Regions from separate parts of the Homo sapiens genome. Here regions 2, 3 and 4 are each reported to be linked to region 1. The links are microRNA targets in miRTarBase. Many come from high-throughput screens and were not tested one by one. Region 1 holds a microRNA gene; each other region holds the end of a gene's coding sequence.
Evidence for each region. Region 1 holds the annotated microRNA hsa-miR-1225-3p (UGAGCCCCUGUGCCGCCCCCAG, at 2,580-2,601, opposite strand). A microRNA usually pairs through its seed, bases 2 to 8, with sites in the 3' UTR of a target mRNA and lowers its output. Matches are read on the target gene's strand: a 7mer-m8 pairs with bases 2 to 8, a 7mer-A1 pairs with bases 2 to 7 and ends in A, and an 8mer does both.

Region 2: the mRNA of PSMG1 is a reported target of hsa-miR-1225-3p. Seed matches in the 3' UTR shown: 7mer-A1 at 1,352-1,358.
Region 3: miRTarBase lists DTX2 as a target of hsa-miR-1225-3p. Seed matches in the 3' UTR shown: 7mer-m8 at 702-708.
Region 4: the mRNA of SLC2A1 is a reported target of hsa-miR-1225-3p. Seed matches in the 3' UTR shown: 7mer-m8 at 600-606.

The regions. Positions count from the first base shown.
Region 1 is chr16:2,087,616-2,092,615 of GRCh38, forward strand. It overlaps MIR1225 (microRNA 1225), which reads right to left and starts at 2,669; the gene lies at 2,580-2,669. TSC2 (TSC complex subunit 2) reads left to right here. Exons shown (of 42, transcript NM_000548.5): 39 at 248-326; 40 at 433-524; 41 at 612-710; 42 at 831-1,876. The coding sequence ends at 995. It overlaps PKD1 (polycystin 1, transient receptor potential channel interacting), which reads right to left. Exons shown (of 46, transcript NM_001009944.3): 39 at 4,865-4,977; 40 at 4,432-4,573; 41 at 4,166-4,291; 42 at 3,808-3,982; 43 at 3,269-3,559; 44 at 3,059-3,193; 45 at 2,670-2,975; 46 at 1,093-2,579. The coding sequence ends at 2,112. PKD1-AS1 (PKD1 antisense RNA 1) reads left to right here and starts at 3,821. Exons shown (of 3, transcript NR_135175.1): 1 at 3,821-3,999.
Region 2 is chr21:39,171,385-39,176,578 of GRCh38, reverse strand. It overlaps PSMG1 (proteasome assembly chaperone 1), which reads left to right. Exons shown (of 7, transcript NM_003720.4): 7 at 915-1,810. The coding sequence ends at 989. It also overlaps the pseudogene PCBP2P1. Among named protein-coding and RNA genes, the nearest start is that of PSMG1, 9.5 kb to the left of the region's middle.
Region 3 is chr7:76,505,035-76,510,228 of GRCh38, forward strand. DTX2 (deltex E3 ubiquitin ligase 2) reads left to right here. Exons shown (of 11, transcript NM_001102594.3): 11 at 340-957. The coding sequence ends at 567. LOC124901675 (a long non-coding RNA gene) reads right to left here. Exons shown (of 2, transcript XR_007060388.1): 2 at 3,147-5,074. Among named protein-coding and RNA genes, the nearest start is that of UPK3B, 2.9 kb to the right of the region's middle. RefSeq lists a silencer at 3,900-4,105 and an enhancer at 4,983-5,194.
Region 4 is chr1:42,922,345-42,927,527 of GRCh38, reverse strand. SLC2A1 (solute carrier family 2 member 1) reads left to right here. Exons shown (of 10, transcript NM_006516.4): 10 at 287-2,175. The coding sequence ends at 487. Among named protein-coding and RNA genes, the nearest start is that of SLC2A1, 34 kb to the left of the region's middle. RefSeq lists enhancers at 1-474, 2,846-2,935, 3,356-3,485, 4,142-4,261.

The sequences.
Region 1 (5,000 bases):
GAGGTGCCCCAGCAATTAGAGGTGTCTTGCCTGTGGCTGCAGCATATGTGGGTGCTGCGCCCAGATGTGGAGGGGGCTTGGCCTGGGGGAGGCCAGACAAACACAGCCCCGCTGCCAGAGGGGAAAGTTCAGGGGCAGATGCTGCCCATGGAGCTGACAGGTGTCTAGCAGTGCAACCAGGCAGTAGCCGAGATCAGCCTTCAGCACACGCTGTGTGCGGGGATGACCCTTTCTCTTGTCCGGGCAGGGCCAGTTCAACTTTGTCCACGTGATCGTCACCCCGCTGGACTACGAGTGCAACCTGGTGTCCCTGCAGTGCAGGAAAGGTAGGGCCGGGTGGGGCCCTGCAGTGCAGGAAAGGTAGGGCCGGGTGGGGCCCTGCAGTGTGGCGCCAAGAGCCCTGGGCCTGGCGTGACCACCAAGTCTCCCCAGACATGGAGGGCCTTGTGGACACCAGCGTGGCCAAGATCGTGTCTGACCGCAACCTGCCCTTCGTGGCCCGCCAGATGGCCCTGCACGCAAATGTGAGTGGGGGTGGGTCCAGGCGTGAGCTGGTGGGACAGGCCCAGGTGCCACCTGATAGTGAGCTCACCCCCTGCCTACGTCCCCAGATGGCCTCACAGGTGCATCATAGCCGCTCCAACCCCACCGATATCTACCCCTCCAAGTGGATTGCCCGGCTCCGCCACATCAAGCGGCTCCGCCAGCGGGTAGGGAATATGGGGCTCCCTCAGCGGGGTGTGCTGGCTGCCCAAGCTGTGGGGCGGGTGTGTGGGCAGAGCGGTTGCCACGCCTCCCAGACTTACTGCCCAAGCCGCCTCTGCCTTCAGATCTGCGAGGAAGCCGCCTACTCCAACCCCAGCCTACCTCTGGTGCACCCTCCGTCCCATAGCAAAGCCCCTGCACAGACTCCAGCCGAGCCCACACCTGGCTATGAGGTGGGCCAGCGGAAGCGCCTCATCTCCTCGGTGGAGGACTTCACCGAGTTTGTGTGAGGCCGGGGCCCTCCCTCCTGCACTGGCCTTGGACGGTATTGCCTGTCAGTGAAATAAATAAAGTCCTGACCCCAGTGCACAGACATAGAGGCACAGATTGCAGTCAGACAGCTCTTTTATTGACTTTGTCTGCTTGGTGCGGGGGTTGGGGGGGTGTCGAGGCTCTAGAAGCGGCCATGCCCACAGAAGTGGTACACAGAAGCAGGCACAGCCAGCTCCGAGGGCCTTGAGGCTGCCTGGGCCATACAGCACACTCGCGCGTGCGCGCGCGCACACACACACACACACAGTCACCTTCCTCCACCCTGGGAGCCAGCCCCCAGGAGGAGTCTTTTCCTCTAACCACCCTGGGGTCCTCTGACATGCCTAGTCCTGCTACTTGCCCAGACCTGATGCCAGCAGGCCTGGGCGCTGCTCTCTTGCTACCTGGCCTGGGGCAAGGGAGGATGACAAGGCCTCTGGGGTGATGAGAGTGCCTGGCAGACAGCTGTGCCCCCAGCACCGGCCCAAGGCCAAGCTCGCATCCAAGCAGCAGCCGGGCTGCCATAACGCCACCACACCTACCAAGCGCAGCAGGTGTTGGGGGAGGCCAGCTCTGGGCGCAGGCCCCTCAGCCCTAGTGAAAATAGTGACATACAAAAATATACACATTTTAACACCATATAAATTACTGACACGAGACACACAGTGAGACGGTGCAGGGAGTACGGTAGGAACTGGAGAGGTAATAACTTAGGGGCAGGGTGGCGGCGGTGCAGGCTAACCCTCCCTGAAGCCAGCAGCCTTAGCAGTGGGGGACATCTGCCCAGGGGGTGGGGCCGGGCACAGCCCGCTGTACCTGAGGACTCGGGGAAATAAATTAGCATCTCAGAGGCTAGAAACCGTCCAATACTGCTGTGTCCTTCCCAAGGGAGCTGGGGAGGGGACCCTGGGTCCTGGTTGGCCACACAGCCTCTTTAAAGTGCTGAAGCCCACAGACAGACAGATGCCCCTGCCTGCTCTCTGGGGAACCTACGTGCAGCCATTCTGCCTGGCCCTCGGCCTTGACAGCGGCAGAAAGTAATACTGAGCGGTGTCCACTCCGACTCCACGGCCCACCCCCGCCAGGAAGGAGGACTAAGTGCTGCTGGGGTGGACCTTGTTCTTGGCCCGAAGGGGTGTCCTGCTGGGGCCAGTGGCCAGGTCCACACCCCGACTGGCCCGGGCAAGGCGGCTGGGCAGTGCTGGCCGCAGGCCCGGGGATGGGCCACGGGAAGATCCGGCGGGCGCCCGGCTGCTCCTGCGGCCTTGCAGGCTGTGCAGCTGCTGCTCCAGCTGGTAGACGTCCTCTGTGGCCTGGTTGAGTCGGTCAAACTGGGTGAGCAGGGCCTCGAACACGGCTTGGAGGCGGGAGGGCTCAGGCTCACACCTTGTCCCCAGCCGGCCCAGGCTCACGCTCAGCCCATCCAGCTGGCTGGAGGAGGTGGAGGGGTGCGAGGCATCGGAGCCAGCGCTGGGTGGGGGCACATCCGGGGATACCTTGGAGCCCCTGGAGGAGCGAGAGGGCAGCGGCTCCATCCCTTCAAAGCGGACTTTGTGGCGGAACTGGGGGCGGCACAGGGGCTCAGTCAGTCCGGCTGCACCCTGGGCAGAGCCCAGGGCGTGTCCCTCTCCCCCCCACTGGGCCGTACCCACCTCCTTGACCTTGCTGAGGCCCATCCAGAGGCGCAGCCTGCGCAGGAACAACTCCACCATCTCGTAGTCCTGGGGCTCCCAGGCCGGCCGGTACAGCTCTCCACGCAAGGCGTGGTAGCGCCAGCGGAGAATAACAGCCCCCAGCCGTAGGGCGCCCCACAGCCGCAGTGCCCAGAGCCCCACACACAGCAGGGGTGACAGGTGCCAGGACTCGGCAGGACACAGGGTAGAGAGCCCAGTCCCAGGGCACAGCACCAACAGGGCCTGGGCCACGCTCCAGAGGGAGTCCACACAGGAAGACACGAGCTGCGGGGAAGGCGACACCAGTGAGGGCGTACAGCTGAGCTGAGCTGAGCTAAGACGCCCTCCCCGGCCGCGCAGTCACCTACCAGGATGGCCAGCTGGGCGTAGGCTACCCCGAGCACCACCAGGCCCAAGGTGACCCCCAGGAGCTCTGGCAGAGCTCGGCATAATGTCTTGCCAAAGACGGACCACTGGCGCACGAAGCGTAGCTGCTGGGCAGCCTGCGGACGAGAAATCTGTCTGCTTGCAGCCCTGGGGTGTGCGCCCAGCCCCGCGCCCACCGGCCCAGCCCTCACCTTGACCAAAAGCAGGAAGAGCAGCGAGGCCGCCAGGCCACGGGCTGCGGAGCTCAGCTGCGCCACCTGGTCGAAGCTAGTGAAGCGGCGCGGGCGGCCGCGCACGAAACGGGTCCACTGGCGGTCAGCGGCACCCAGCTGGGCGAGGCGTACCAGTGCCGTGGCCGCCGTCAGCGCCACCAGCAGCCACCGCGCCCAGGCTCCGAGCCGCAGCACGCGCCAGCGCCCTTCCCTGTGCCAAGTACGGGCCTCGGCCACGGCGAAGTGCACGGCGAACAGCAGCAGGCACACCTGTGGGGGGCGCGGTCAGGAGGGCGGGAGGGACGCTGCCGGGGCGGGGCCCTGCGAGGGGGCGGGACGCTGCCGGGGCGGGGCCCTACGAGGGGGCGGGACGCTGCCGGGGCGGGGCCCTGCGAGGGGGCGGGACGCTGCGAGGGGGCGGGGCGCTGCGAGGGGTGAGACGCTGCCGGGGCGGGGCCCCGCGAGGGGGCGGGACGCTGCCGGTGGGAGGCGCGGGGTCTGGCCGGGGACGGGCGTACCGAGGTGAGCAGAGGCAGCGAGAGGCCCGCGCTGAGGCGGCGCAGCGCAAAGGGGCGGACGCTGAGGGCGGCCAGGGCGCGGCCGGCCGCCGGGAACTCGAGGCGCAGCGTGACGGCGGCGTGCAGCCCCACGGCCGGGCTGTAGCGCGTGAGCTCCAGGAACACAGCGCGGCTCCTGCGCAGAGGGTGCGGGTCAGTAGGAGCGGGTGGCAGGGCGGGAGCTGCGGGGACCGCGCAGTGCAGGCGTGGCTGAGGGGCTGTGGAAGCCGCCTAGGCCAGCGGGGGCCGGAGGAGTGAGGGTGGGCTCCTGGCTGGTGACTGCGGCCACCCCGGAGAGGGCAGGGGAGGGAGCTCCCACCTGTTGTCCAGCCAGTTGTGCAGCTGCAGGAAGCGCAGCCGGTCGCGGCTCTCCTCCAGGCTCAGGCCCAGCTCCTGCACGTAGCCCCCGCTGTCATACACGGCACAGGAGCCCCAGGACCATGCCCTGCCGGAGAGGGGTGGCGTGGGTGCCGCACCCCAGCCCTTCCGGCACCCCGGAGCCAGGCTGGTCAGGAGGCCGCGGCACTCCTGGAGAACTACTCCCTTGTCCTTGGCGTAGACGCCCGGGGCCCTCGCTCTGCTCACCCCAGCAGATCCGGCGCTGAATAGGCCCACGTCCCCGAGCCATTGTGAGGACTCTCCCAGCCAACGTCGTAATCGCTGGTGCTGAAGCCTCCTGCGGCCGAGCACGTGTGGACCCTGGGGCCGGGAGGGTCTGGGTAGAGTGCTGAAACACACAGAGCCCCAGGCCGGGGCCAGGGCCTCATCAAAACCCAACAGGAGTGTTTCCTGCTGGCCAGCTCGCCTGAGCTCTGGTTCGGCGCCACCCCAGGGAACCCTCCCAGCAGCCATCAATTAGACAACGTTACCATCTCTCATATACAGAGAAGGAAACGGCGGTGTTAAGAGGGCAAAGGTCACACAGCTAGGGAGCAGGGCTGATGCCAGAGCTCCGCTAAAGGCTGCTCTCTCAACAAGAGGAACGATTTAAGTCTTGGGGCACGCCCTGCCAGCTCACCTTCCTGCAGCCGCACCTGCCGCAGCCGTGGGGGCCCCAGCTCTGGGCTGGACTGGTTCCCGTGGACGTAGGGCAGCAGCACGTGGGCCATCCATGGCCAGAGCTCCTCAGACCTGCCACAGCATCAGTCACACGC
Region 2 (5,194 bases), not on the chromosome of region 1:
GATTTAGTATACTGCAAGCTTATCTTGCAAATTAGCTAGAATCCAGGGTAATCTTTCTGACACATGGAGTTAATTTATTTTTAGCATCTCTTTCAAAGTATATGCTGATCGTCTTGTTTGTTTAAATAGCCAATTGCCTCATCCCACTTAACTCAGAGATGAGTTCCCATGGGCAGGGGCTGGGCTGTTTTGTTTACTGCTGTAGGACTGTGTGTAGCACACAGGTGTGTCATAAACGCTTGGACTTGTTCAGAGACTTGGAAATCATCTGTCATATGGGGCTTAAGGAAACTCAGCTTTTATGAATATACTTTCAAGGGGAAATTTAACTCAGCATTTTCATTTTTGCTTTGGAGATAATGATTAGCAGGAGGGTAAGATGGTGGTTCTGCAGGGTGCTGTTTTCTTAATGACCAATTACATCAGCCTGAGTCAGTTCGTTGTTTCTGACCTTTTAAAAGTGGTATTTTCAATAAGGTGGAATTATTTTGAGTTCTTCCTGTGTGGCAGTTTAGTTGGATTTGAAAGATGGATGAATCTTGGGTAGAAGTGTGCAGAGGGAAGCAGTGTGAGCAGAGTGGGAAAGTGTGAGGAGAGCCGTGAGGAGTGTGGTGTTGGTGGAGAGGGGAGGAAGACATCTTGTGGGGAAGGTCGGGCGGGTTAGAGCATAGACTTCCTCCAGAGGCCAGGAGACCATCGGAGGCCAGGAGATCATCGGCGAGTGTGGCAGGGAAAGGGCCTGTTGAACTGACTTTCCCACTTGCCTTTTCGTTGAGAAGGAGAGTAAAGGCCACGCCTGTCCCATGGCTGTTTTTAAGTCTCGAGTGTGGAGATTGTTGGTCGTGGAGGGAGGGGTGTTGCCTCTGCCTGAATCCCTGGGGTCTCACTGTATTCACTTTTTTCTCTCCTTTCAGAATATTCCCCAAAGCACTGAGATACTAAAGAAATTGATGACAACAAATGAGATTCAGAGTAACATTTATACATGATCTTAAACATTGTTTTGTAGTGTATATTACTTGTCCATTCCTTTAAGGGGAGCAGCCTGCACTCTTTTGTAGATTACTTTTGGGGGATATATTTTGAGAATGATGAAACGGAATAAAATTGTAAAAAATTAATTGTAGTTTTAATTCCTTATTTATGGTGGTATTATTCACAACCAAAATAAGCCAAGCATTTTCCTTTTATCCACTAGGTGGGAGTATTGTTGTATTTGAATATTTTAAGGTACTATAGTTAAATTTTTATCTTATTTATTTATTTATTTATTTTTTGAGGCTGGGTCTTGCTCTGTTGCCCAGGCTGAAGTGCAGTGTGCTATCATGGTTCACTGCATCCTCGACCTCCTGGGCTCAAGCATTTCCCCCGCCTCGGCCTCCCAAAATGCTGGGATTACAGGTGTGAGCCACTGTGCCCAACTTTAGTTAAATTTTTCAAAGCTACAGATATCAGCAGATGGTATTCATGTGGCAAAGTGTAGTTAATTAGGTGTAACTATTCATTGACCTGTTGGTGATTCTTAATATGTGGAAAGTTTCTGGATATTTTAGGAGTCCTGCAGTTTTTTTTATCTTGTGGGTAAAAATTGATGACAAAGTAACAAAATTATATATTTACTAAAAATGAAACAGAAATGTGTATGTCCTCACTTTTTAGTAATATCTGACAGATAGCCTCTTCACCCAGACTTTCCCAGGGCTCTCTTTCAAGGCTGGCTCTGCGCGTGTCAGCAGTTCTCTTACAGTCATGTGTTATCATTAGGAGTGTGAATGGAATCATGAACCCGGAGTAGCCACACAACTTCACAGGACCACAAACTGAACTGCATTCATGAAAATAAATTTTAAAATGGTGGAGTTAAATGCTTCTTATCTCTTCTGCTTTCTTTTTCACCTTTTTAGTTATTGAATCATTTACATACTATAGATTTAGAGTACTTACCCATTTATATTTTCTAGTTCCAGTTCATTTACTGTTTTTGGTAATGATTAGAAGTATGGTAAGGAGATACTGTGTTCTAACTCCTTCTTGAGTAAACTTGGTTTCCTTTACATAATCAAGAATTGGAAGTCTTGTGCATAGTATGCTTATGAATATATCCCGAAGGCAGAAATCTAAGCATTTCCCTTGTTGCAAAAAAAGTTTTCATTCATTCAGAAATGTGCCTGCAGAGCCCTGAGGTAACATCATATGACCTGGAATCTGGTCCTAGCTGGAGCTAATCCTCTTCTTGTGCTGAGGGTCAGTGTGGTAAGTAAGGAAGAGTGATCTTGGAAAAGCAGACTATGTTCAATCCCAGGCCAGCCCTTACAGGCCAGGTGACTTTGGGCAGATGCCTTGAAGCTTCCTGAGCAACAGTTTTCTCAGCTGTAAACTACAGATAATACTGGTGACAGTACTCCCTGGGTGGTTATCTACTTCCCTTGGGGTCCAGGTTTTCATCTGCTTAATGAAGGAAATTCTCTGCTTGCTTTGCTGAATTGTGAGAATAATGATATAAGAATGCTTTTGAAGAACTGTAAGGTGGTATTTCCATGTTGACACACCTTTGTGTGCCCCACCTCAAAGATGCTGACGGTGATGTGGTAAGAAAGGAGTGGGGAGCTGCTCTGGGGGCAGCTGGAGCTGTCAGTCTTCATTCCTTCTTGTACTTCCTCTTGCTAACTTGAGAACCACAGAGCTTGGCAGTGTCAAATGGCTAAGAGTGGAAGTAGTTGGGGGACAAGTTTTGCATCGGCAGTAATCCTGGGAGAACCCTAGAAGCAGATAACTCTGGGCATTGTAGTTTTTAATAATTTTGGTAAGGAAAGAATCATAATTGCTTCAGACTGTCCAGGAGTAAACCTCTTCTTGTGATAAGAAGCAGGCAGCAGGTGCAGGAGGTTGGCTGTCAGTGCAGCAGAGCCACGTTAGGGCCAGATACCAAGCCAGGCACAGCGGTGCTTATCCGTAGTCCCAGCTACCTGGGATGCTGGGGCAGGAGGATCGCTTGAGCCCAGGAGTTCGAGTCTAGCCGGAGCAGACATCAGGCCTGGGTAGGTTTCCCATTCAAAGGAGAGTAGCTGAAGAAAACAAGCAATACGAAGGATAGAAACAGCATTAAAAATGCAGAAGAAGAGCATTCTGTTGAAAAACATGACTGTAGGAAACAGCTATTTTTTAAAAGTCAGGAACCCCTGCTTTTTCCAAAAGCAAATAATGAGATGTATGAGAAGCAGCAGCTAGCTGAAAGGAAATTTAAAAAATTTCATGGAAAAGATTTTAACAGAAGCAAAACTTCAACTTTAAAATCTGTATTATATAAAATAACAACAAATAGTATGTGATCTAAGTTGTATATATATTACATATATATAAAATAGGGTATAATACAAAGCCATTATGTGGAGGACTAACTTGAGTTGGTGTCCTAAGATGCAGGACAGAAATAGAGAAGTAACAGATGACACAGACAAGACAGTATATGCCCAGTATATTAGAGCAGTCCAGAGAGAACCAGTAGGATGTGTATAGTCATGCACCACATAAGGACATACCACTGGCGGACCGCATGTAGACAGGGGTCCATAAGATCGTATGGAACTGAAAAATTCCTATCGCCTAGGCTGTGGTAGCCATCCTAAGGTCAGACCTCATGTGTTACTTGTGTTTGTGGTGTTGCTGGTGAAAACACGCCTACTGTGCTGCCAGTTTAAAGGTCCAGCACATACAACTATGAACAGTACATAATACTTACAATAAATGACTATGCTACTGGTTTATGTACATCCTATTTTTTGCTATTTTAGAGTGTATTCCTTCTACTCGTAACAAAAAAGCGAACTGTAAAACAGTCTCAGGCAGGCCCTTCCAGAGGTATCCAGAAGCAGACATTGTCATCACAGGAGATGACAGTTCCATGTGTGTTACTGTCCCTGAAGACCTTCTAGCGGGACAAGATATGGAGGCGGAAGACAGTGAGATATTGATGATTCTGACCCTGTGTAGGCCTAGGCTAATGTGTGTGCTGTGTCTCAGTTTTTAACAAAAAGCAAAAAACAAAACTTTTGAATGGAAAAAAGCTTATGGAATAAGGATATAAAGAAAAAATATTTCTGTACAGCTGTACAGTGTATTTGTGTTTTAAGCTAAGTTATTAGAAAAGAGTCAAAAAGTTAAAAAAATAAAAGTTTAGAAAGCAGAAAAGTTACAGGAAGCTGAGATTGACACCAGCAGAGGCAGCAGCCTGAGCAGCTACAGGCTGTGCTCTCTCCCACCTGCCCTGAGGTCTCTCCCTTCTTTCTCTTCCTCCACCACCTTTTCTCCTCCTTCTCGTTGCCTTTCTGCCCACCCCTGTTGTTCCACCCCTGCCCCACCCTGCCTGCTCTCCTTTTTCCCTGAGTTGCCTCCTGCCTGGAGTTCTTGGTTTTCATCCCCACTGGCCAAAGACTTGACCACTCCAAGTCCAGCTCCCCATAGCCCTGCTTGATATGGACACTGGTATGATTGAAATTGGATTAAATGTCATTCTCACCACCTGGCTACTTATGCATGGAAAGGAAGTTGGCAGTATCATCAGAAAGAGGAGAATCAGTTAAGATGCATGAGGAGAGTGGTGCATGTATCAGCATCTCAGAAGGGAGTTGTTCTGAGAGAATTATCATCTTGGCTGGACCCACTAGCGCCATCTTCAAAGCAAGATTGGAAGAGGATATCAGTAGCTCTGTGACCACTAGCACAGCTGCCAGTGGACCCCCTGGTCACCCTGATGCTGGTGGTCCCTGCTAGTCACTGTGGCTCATTGGAAAAGGTGGTTGCAAGATCAAGGCAATACGAGAGAGTACAGGGCTCAGGTCCAGGTGGCAGGGGATATGCTCCCCAACGCTGCTGACTGAGCCATCACTATCGCTGGGATTCCGCAGTCCATCATTGAGTGTGTTGGACAGGTCTGTGTGGTGTTGGAGTCTTCCCCCAAACGCATGGCCATCCCATACTGGTCCAAGCTGTCCAATTCTCCGGTGATCTTTGCAGGTGATCAGGACAGGTACAGCACAGGCAGCGACAGTGTGAGCTTGCTTTCTCCACACCACTTCGTCCATGTGCCTCAACTGTGACCTGGAGGGACCACTTCTAGAGTTGACCAAGCTGCACCAGTTGACAATGCAACAATCTAGTTTTCCTACAGTAGATAGCAACGCTGGGGTTCAGTGCA
Region 3 (5,194 bases), not on the chromosome of region 1:
CTGGATTCCACCAGGGAGGGTGGGTGGGCGGGCGCTCGTCCAGCAACGGCTGTGGAAGCAGGGAGGACTCGAGCATGGTGCCTGGGCATCAGGACCAAACGGATGGCAGTGCCAGGCACTGAGGCGGGGTGGGCTGGAGCCCAGGTTCATGTGGGATCCTAATGTACTATCCAGTGGGCAGTTTTGGGGTCCCTGCAGATGGGGTGAGTGCCAGGGAGTGGATGAGTCACCTGGGAGGGGCTGGGATGGGAAGAACATGGTGCCAACCCGTGCCTGCTCACTGAGCCCCTCTCACTCTCCGTCCCCTCCTTCCTCTTCCCCCTCCTCCTCCCCGGGCAGGTCCTAGAGCTCCTGAAGGTGGCCTGGAAGAGGCGGCTCATCTTCACAGTGGGCACGTCCAGCACCACGGGTGAGACGGACACCGTGGTATGGAACGAGATCCACCACAAGACAGAGATGGACCGCAACATTACGGGCCACGGCTATCCCGACCCCAACTACCTGCAGAACGTGCTGGCTGAGCTGGCTGCCCAGGGGGTGACCGAGGACTGCCTGGAGCAGCAGTGACCTCGCACCCCAGCACGCCCGCCTCTGGTGGCCACCCCGCTGCCCCATGGCTGGCTGGGTGGCCAGGCAGGAAGTGCCCAGCCCGAGAGGCTGGGAGGTTTGTTGAGGGTGTGGGGTGTGCCCCACCTGAAGCCGGGGCTCCCCCTGCCTGCCTCTCTCTCCTCCTCCCCTCTGGGAATTGGGCAGCCCTGGGCAGTTGTACTCATGGGGGCTTAGGATGCAGCTACCTCAGTGCGCAGGGCCCGTCTGTCCTCTGGGGGCTGCTTCGGGCCCGCGGTGCTCGGGGCCTGGTGTGGGGCGAGTAGAGACTTCCCCAGCCTGGACGGGCGTGGGTTCTGGGTCAGCTTCTTTTACCTCAATTTTGTTTGCAATAAATGCTCTATAGCCAAAGCCAGCAGGTCCTGAGTGTGTGCATGCATGCGTGTGTGCGCACTTGTGTGTGTGTGTGCCCCCCCCCACTTCCTGCATCAGAGCAAGAGGGGGTTCCATGGGCTCATCGGCTCCCATTTGATAACTGAAGAACAGGCCACAGCCAGGCATGGAGGAGCCCACGGTACTGGGCTGTGCGGCCTCCACATGCCCTACACTGATCTCCCTGCCATGCCAGAGGCTGTCACCCCAGAGCACCAGCTGTCACCTTTGTGGCCCTGGGGTTGTGGTTCACAAAATGCCATTCACTTAGGATTGGAGCTGCTGTCTCTGTTTTACTGATGTGGAAACAGGTTCAAAGGTGCAATGACTTGAACCAGGCATGGTGACGCATGCCTGTTATCCCAGCTGCTCAGAAGGTCGAGACAGGAGGCTCACTGTAGTCCAGACATTTGAGACCAGCCTGAGCAAAATTGCAAGACCTCATCTCTAAAAAAAAAATTAGGCCAGGTGCAGTGGCTCACGCCTCTAATCCTAGCACTTTTGGGAGGCTGAGACAGGTGGATCACCTGAGGTCAGGAATTTGAGACCAGCTTGGCCAACATGGCAAAACATCGTCTCTACTGAAAATACGAAAATTAGCCAGGCGTGGTGGCATGCAGCTGTAATCCCAGCTACTCAGAAGGCTGAGGCAGGAGAATCATTCGAACCTGGGAGGTGGAGGTTGCAGTGAGCCAAGGTCGTGCCACTGCACTCCAGCCTGAGCCACAGAGCGAGATTCCGTCTCAAAAAAATAAATAAATAAGCCAGGCATGGTGGCACCTGTCTGTAGTCCCAGCGGTCGGGAGGCTGAGGCGGGAGGATCGCTTGAGCCCAGGAGCTCAAGGCTGCAGTGAGCTATGATTGCACCACTGCACTCCAGCCTGGGCAACAGAGCAAGATCCCATCTGTAAAATCATAATAAAAAGAGACAGATTGAATGCTTGGCTAGGTAGGTGGAATCCAGGCCAGGGTTGATCTGACACCATTCTCAAAGTTCTAATTCTTCCTCCTCTTGGAAGGAGGATCAGATATCCCCAGTCAAGATCTTGCTGCTTGTCCGGGAGGAGTAGTTTGGGCCTGGGACCAGAGGGGGACGGTAGGGCCACCTCATTCATGGCTGTGGAAAGCAGAGGCACTTTGGCCTTGGTGAGCCCCTTTCTCTGTTAAACCTATTTTACAACATGTTGGTATAAAGATGAATATATTAATGTATACTAGAGGATTTTCTCTCACCTAAAGGTTCATTTTTTTCCCTTCTGATTTTAAAAGAAATTAAAAATGTATGTCAGCTCTTATAGTGTGGGCCCAGGGCACTGTGCCTAATGGTAAGTTGGTCCAGGGTAAAAAGGGTAGTGAGGTCTCTCTAGAAGACCCCAGTGTTGGCCGGGTACAGTGGCTCAGGCCTGTCATCCCAGCACTTTGGGAGGCTGAGGCGGGAGGATCACAAGGTCAGGAGTTCGAGACCAGCCTGGCCAACGTGGTGAAACCCCCTCTACTAAAAATACAAAAATTAGCTGGGCATGGTGGTGTGCACCTACAATTCCAGCTAACTTGGGAGGCTGAGGCAGGAGAATTGCTTGAACCCGGAAGGCAGAGGTTGCAGTGAGCCGAGATCACGCCACTGTACTCCAGCCTGGCGACAGAGCAAGACTCCGTCTCAAAAAATATATATAAAAACAAAACCATGAGATGCCACACTACACCCATTACGATGGCTATACTAAAACAAAAAGCAGTGTTGGAGAGGATGTCGAGAAATGGGACCCTCATCCACTGCTACTGGGAATGTAAAATGCAGCCACTTTGGCAAACAGAACCTCAGAAAGCAGCATTAGCATATGACCACAGTTCCACTCCTAGGTACATTCTCAAGAGAATTGAAAATGTGCCCACAGAAGCCTGCGCACGGATGCTCATGGCAGCATTATTTACAGTAGCCCCACAGTGGAAAAAAACAAATTCTGCATCCACTGATGAATGAAAGTGTGATACGTTCACAGGATGGAATATTACTCAACTGTGAAAAGGAATGAAGCAATCACAGTCGAGGAGGAACCTTGAAAAAGTAACAAAAGCCAGACACAAAAGGTCACATGTTGTGTGACTGCATCCTATGAAATGTCCATTACGGGCAAAACCATGGAAACAAGAAGTAGCTTAGTCGTCACTGGGGACGGGAGAATGGAGAGTTACCGTTTAATGGGTGTAGTGTTTCGTTTTGGGGAAGTAAGAAGGTTCTGGAATTGGTGATGGTTGCACAACCTTGTTGATATACTAAAAGCTGTTGGGCGCTGTGGCTCATGCCTGTAATCTGGGCACTTTGGGAGGCTGAGGCAGGAGGATCCCTTGAGCCAGGAGTTCAAGACCAGGCTGGGCAACACAGTGAGACCCTGTCTCTACAAGAAATATATTTTTATTATATTTTTTTTGAGACAGAGTCTCACTCTGTCATCCACGCTGTAGTGCGGTGGTGCGATCTCAGCTCACTGCAACCTCCGCCTCCCGGGTTCAAGTCATTCTCCTGCCTCAGCCTCCCGAGTACTTGGGATTACAAGCACGTTCCACCACACCCGGCTAATTTTTGTAATTTTAGTCGAGACAGGGTTTCACCATGTTCGCCAGGCTGGTCTCGAACTCATGACCTCAAGTGACCTGCCCACCTCGGCCTCCCAAAGTGCTGGGATTACCGCCGTAAGTCACTACACCCAGCCTCAAAAACTATATTTTTAAAAATTAGCAGCTGGGCGCAGTGGCTCATGCCTGTAATCCCAGCACTTTGGGAGGCCAAGGCAGGTAGATCGCGAGGTCAGGCGTTCGAGACCAGCCTGGCCAAGTTGGTGAAACCTCATCTCTACTAAAAATACAAAAATTAGCTGGGCATGGTGGTAGGTGCCTGTAGTCCCAGCTACTAGGGAGGCTGAGGCAGAAGAATTGCTTGAACCCAGGAGGTGGAGGTTGCAGTGAGCAGAGATCACGCCATTGCACTCCAGCCTGGGCGACAGGGTGAGACTCCATGTCTCAAAAAAAAAAAAAAATAGCCAGGCACGGTGGCTCACGCCTGTAATCCCAATACTTTAGGAGGCCAAGGCAGGAGATTTGCTTGATCCTCCCAGGAGTTAGAGATCAGCCTGGGCAACATAGCAAGATCCTGTTTCTATAAAAAATACATTTTTAAAAATTGGCCAGCCGGGCGCAGTGGCTCACACCTGCAATCCCAGCGCTTTGGGAGGCTGAGGTGGGTGGATCACCTGAGGTCAGGAGTTCGAGACCAGCCTCACCAACGTGGAGAAACCCTATCTCTACTAAAAATACAAAATTAGACAGGTGTGGTGGCACATGCCTGTAATCCCAGCTACTCAGGAGGCTGAGGCAGGAGAATCACTTGAACCCAGGAGGTGGAGGTTGCGGTGAGCCAAGATCGAGCCATTGTACTCCAGCCTGGGCAACAAGAGTGAAAACTCCGTTTCAAAAAAAACAAAAAAAAAATTGGCGGGGGTGCCAGGCACGGTGGCACATGCCTGTAATCCCAGCACTTTGGGAGGCCAAGGCGGGTGGATCACTTGAGATCAGGAATTTGAGACCAGCCAAGCCAACATGGTGAAACCCCGTCCCTACTAAAAATACAAAAATTAGCTGGCCGTGGGGCACATGCCTGTAATCCCAGCTACTTGGGAGGCTGAGGCAGGAGAATCGCTTGAACCCAGGAGGCGGAGGTTGCAGTGAGCCCAGATCACGCCACTGCACTCCAGCCTGGACAACAAAGGAGACTCCATCTTAAAAAAAAATTAATTAAATAAATTTTAAAAATTAGCCGGAGCATGGTGTTGTGTGCCTGTGGTTCCAGCTACTGGGAAGGCTGAGGTGGGAGGATTAACTGAACCTGGGAGTTTGAGGCTCCAGTTAGCTGTGAACTGACCTCCCTGGGTGACATATATATATTTAAGCCACTGAGCTGTGAAGGTTGTGAAGGTATGTGAGTTATGTCTTGAAAAATACACACATAGTGAGCGCCAAATCCCGGGAGTAGTGTTTAAGTGGCGGGCTTGTCAGCTGTCAAGGGCTCTGCAGCCCTTTCTCTGAATCCAAGTTCTTCTTCCTGTGGACAGGGAACCCAGGCTGCGAACTGGGAGGATGTGGCCTCGTGGGGGGCAGGGCCAGCGTGCTGTGATGGGGATGGGGCTGGGCAGGTTGGGGCTGCCTGCTACTCCCCACTCCT
Region 4 (5,183 bases), not on the chromosome of region 1:
TCATTAGGAATCATGCTGAGGAGGAAACTGAGGGTAGGAAGCCCAGGTCACATGACCAAGAATGCTGACCTCAACTCCAGGGTTCTCCCCTTAGCCTTGAATGGTGCTCCTGGAGCCTGTTACATTCTAGGTACAAGCGTGGTCTCAGTTAATTATGATAGCATCCCTGGGTAGGTGGATGTTCCCTTTTCAGCTCAAAGGCCCAAAGGTAAAGTGACTTATCCAAAGTCCTACAGCCAGGATGTAGGGTCATGACTCCAACCAAGTGTGTCTGTGTGTCTTTCAGCAACTGTGTGGTCCCTACGTCTTCATCATCTTCACTGTGCTCCTGGTTCTGTTCTTCATCTTCACCTACTTCAAAGTTCCTGAGACTAAAGGCCGGACCTTCGATGAGATCGCTTCCGGCTTCCGGCAGGGGGGAGCCAGCCAAAGTGACAAGACACCCGAGGAGCTGTTCCATCCCCTGGGGGCTGATTCCCAAGTGTGAGTCGCCCCAGATCACCAGCCCGGCCTGCTCCCAGCAGCCCTAAGGATCTCTCAGGAGCACAGGCAGCTGGATGAGACTTCCAAACCTGACAGATGTCAGCCGAGCCGGGCCTGGGGCTCCTTTCTCCAGCCAGCAATGATGTCCAGAAGAATATTCAGGACTTAACGGCTCCAGGATTTTAACAAAAGCAAGACTGTTGCTCAAATCTATTCAGACAAGCAACAGGTTTTATAATTTTTTTATTACTGATTTTGTTATTTTTATATCAGCCTGAGTCTCCTGTGCCCACATCCCAGGCTTCACCCTGAATGGTTCCATGCCTGAGGGTGGAGACTAAGCCCTGTCGAGACACTTGCCTTCTTCACCCAGCTAATCTGTAGGGCTGGACCTATGTCCTAAGGACACACTAATCGAACTATGAACTACAAAGCTTCTATCCCAGGAGGTGGCTATGGCCACCCGTTCTGCTGGCCTGGATCTCCCCACTCTAGGGGTCAGGCTCCATTAGGATTTGCCCCTTCCCATCTCTTCCTACCCAACCACTCAAATTAATCTTTCTTTACCTGAGACCAGTTGGGAGCACTGGAGTGCAGGGAGGAGAGGGGAAGGGCCAGTCTGGGCTGCCGGGTTCTAGTCTCCTTTGCACTGAGGGCCACACTATTACCATGAGAAGAGGGCCTGTGGGAGCCTGCAAACTCACTGCTCAAGAAGACATGGAGACTCCTGCCCTGTTGTGTATAGATGCAAGATATTTATATATATTTTTGGTTGTCAATATTAAATACAGACACTAAGTTATAGTATATCTGGACAAGCCAACTTGTAAATACACCACCTCACTCCTGTTACTTACCTAAACAGATATAAATGGCTGGTTTTTAGAAACATGGTTTTGAAATGCTTGTGGATTGAGGGTAGGAGGTTTGGATGGGAGTGAGACAGAAGTAAGTGGGGTTGCAACCACTGCAACGGCTTAGACTTCGACTCAGGATCCAGTCCCTTACACGTACCTCTCATCAGTGTCCTCTTGCTCAAAAATCTGTTTGATCCCTGTTACCCAGAGAATATATACATTCTTTATCTTGACATTCAAGGCATTTCTATCACATATTTGATAGTTGGTGTTCAAAAAAACACTAGTTTTGTGCCAGCCGTGATGCTCAGGCTTGAAATGCATTATTTTGAATGTGAAGTAAATACTGTACCTTTATTGGACAGGCTCAAAGAGGTTATGTGCCTGAAGTCGCACAGTGAATAAGCTAAAACACCTGCTTTTAACAATGGTACCATACAACCACTACTCCATTAACTCCACCCACCTCCTGCACCCCTCCCCACACACACAAAATGAACCACGTTCTTTGTATGGGCCCAATGAGCTGTCAAGCTGCCCTGTGTTCATTTCATTTGGAATTGCCCCCTCTGGTTCCTCTGTATACTACTGCTTCATCTCTAAAGACAGCTCATCCTCCTCCTTCACCCCTGAATTTCCAGAGCACTTCATCTGCTCCTTCATCACAAGTCCAGTTTTCTGCCACTAGTCTGAATTTCATGAGAAGATGCCGATTTGGTTCCTGTGGGTCCTCAGCACTATTCAGTACAGTGCTTGATGCACAGCAGGCACTCAGAAAATACTGGAGGAAATAAAACACCAAAGATATTTGTCTCTAGAGGCTCAGCTGACAAAATCTGGGAGAAGTTTGCTTTTGTAACTACAGGCAGGCTTTTTTCTCCCTGACATGAAGAGGGGTTGTAAGAAGGGTGTGAGAAAGGAAAACTGGTACTTAGCAAATGGAAATACCTATATGTATTACCATTAGGTATAAAGAATCTATGAGGACATCCATCTGCATCTCAACAAAGAAGAGCAGGTTGCGAAGAATATGCCCTGCCTGAGCCTGGGGACAGGGCGGTTAACTGGTGAAGGGCTGAGGCCAGATGAAAGGAAGCCTTATCGTGTGCTCCCAAAAGACTTCTGTTGAAAGGAGTTATCCGGGTCCCCGTGCGGGAGGGGGTGCGGGGGCAGGGCAAGAAGGAGAGGCCGGGGGCCCAGGTATCTTACTCCTACGACGCTGCTCACTCAGGGCTGTCCCCACTGGACCAGAAAGGAAACAGACGGGGTGGGGTGGGGTGGGGTGGGGTGGGGATGGGTGGGAGCCCCGCGCCGGTGGCCGGACGCGAGGACTACAAGGCGGATGGCGGGCGGAGCTCATTCACACTCGAGGGCCCAGAACGTTGGCAGAGCCAGGCAGCACCCGAGCCCCGCCCCGGCCCAGAGGTTCAGACCCCGGTCTGAAAAGGCCCGACAATCCACTCGCAGCTGCCTCCCGCCCTGGGTCAGTATCGACGTCCCCGAGCACCGCCATTTCCCAAACTGCAAAATGTCAGCGCAGGCGCAGGGAAGCCGGCCCGCCCTCAGCGTGGTCCAGAGTGCCGCGACGGCACAGCTGCCGGTCGGTCCCCTGACGCCTTTCCTCTAGGGGCCGCAATCCACCCCGGGGTAGAAGATTTGGGGCCAAGGTTCGGCCGCCTACTGCCGGGGTCGATGGCGCATCCTCTCCAGACCTCACAGCGGTCCCCTAAGCCGGGCCACCGGCGGCGCACGGACACGATTGGGGATGGGCGGGGCCAGGTGGTTTCTCCACCAATCAGAGGCGCATTGTTGGGCCCGACGAGGGGCGGGCTCCAAGACTCCACCAATCACACCCTGGCGGTTCCAGGCGCTGGCCCTTGGGGACGACCTGGGCGCCTGCTTGCCAGGCGATGCGGTTTACTCTGGAGGGGGTGACGGTGACTTGTGTATCGCTGGGCATCCCTGGGGACGTAGCTCACCCGGGTTCCTATCCCGCGTAAGGTGACGTCTACGGTTTCTGACGAAAAGGGGTAAATAGATAACGGGACTGTTCTCCAGGCCACCATCTTTTCCCAGCAGTGCTTAGTTGTTTCACTGACAGTGTTATGAGATCTTTCATTTGAAATCTTAGGCGCAAAATCTCCTCTCCCTGGAAGCCTTCTGGATCAGGTTTTCCCGGGAACACTACATCGGCTTGTATTTCCTCCATCAAAGCGCTCTCCACGCTGTACCGGAATTGAGTGTCTTTCCACCACATTGGGGGCGGGGGCGGGGACGAGGGCGGGGGTTGGGGGGGTAGGGCAGCTGCCGCAGGAACAGGACTGAGCCATTCCTTGGTCCCCACTTCCCACCACAGACTCTGGTCAGGATTATTGAATGAATGAAGTAGAATTTAGAAGCCAAGAAGTTCTGAAATCTGAATTCTTACAGTGCAATTTTAGGTAGACGATCTGACAATTCAGGATGTATTTAATAATAGGGAAAGGATATCATTCTTTTCTGTCAACTACATTTTTAATGACCCCTTTTTCATTCTGTGATTTTTATTTCATAAGTCTCCTACAGTTCTGGTCCGTCTGTCCATTGCAATTGCTGGGCCTACTGCTGGCCACTCATCACCTCTCCCAGGATCACTGCAACTGCCTTCTCACTGATCTCTGTGCTTCCTGCTTCCTCCTCATTCTCCACACTGCAATCGATGATCTTCCTAAAATTCAAATCTAGTTATGTCTCTCTCCTACTTAAAAACCTTCCTGGGTTCCTCATTTCTCTCAGGATAATGTCTGTGTTTCTTAACCTGAAAATTCAAGTCATTCATGATCAAGCTCTCGACCTCACCACTGCCCCCACTCAACCCCAACCCTATCCTCCAGCCATCCATCCACTCTGTTCTCTGATCACGTTCTCCTTCTCCTCTGGGCCTCTGAAGTTTCCTCCGAAGAGACTGCCCTCCCACCTACTCCTGTTATCCACTAGGTGATCACACCCCACCACAGCTCAAGGAGTGAGAGAACAGAAGCTGCTAGTTGGGAGTCTGGCTCATCCATTCATTGGCACATTCCTGCCAACTAGTGGCTGTTTTGTGAACATTTTGATCAGGGCAGGGTTTAACCTCACACTTTCAGGGTTTCAGAGATACTACGTTGCTTTGGAGGGAACCCTTGACTGGTCCTACTACAACAAATCCATCTGGTAACCCTGACCCTGGCTTCCCAAATGATCTTCCTAAAAATGTGTTCTGACCACATTATTCTGTGGGTTAATACTCCCCACTTTCTCATGATAAAGCCCAAATTCCTTAACCACATTCTGGCCTTTGCAGACCTTATCTTCCAATACACTCCTTCCACACCCTAATCTCCAGTGAAGCTTGATGTACTCTATGTTCCCAGGACAACTCCTCACCCTAAAACTTTTTGTTCAATCCCCTTTCTCCTGGTCTGCCTTTGGTCTCTCCATAAGATTATCTGATATCAAAATACCAAATTAGCTGTCACTTTCTCTATGAAGCATTTGCTCAATTCTTTGAACCATTACCTAACTGAGTACACACTTGTTGCCACGTTTTCTCCTCAGTTGTGCTGGGTCTTGGAAAAAATATGGTTTCTGGAGTCAGAAATAGCTGATTTAAGATTCCTGCACTGCTATTTAGCTGAATAATCTTGGGCAAGTCACTTCACCTTTCTGATCTTCTGTTTCTTTTCTGTTGTAATATTAAAATGAAATAATATATATTGTAATGCAGATATCGGCTGGAGTTACATCATCTTCCCCCTTCCAAATGTTTCAGAAAGTCTGGTAATCACCCCCAAGGTTTCTGTGAATTCCCAGGGATCTTTTGTT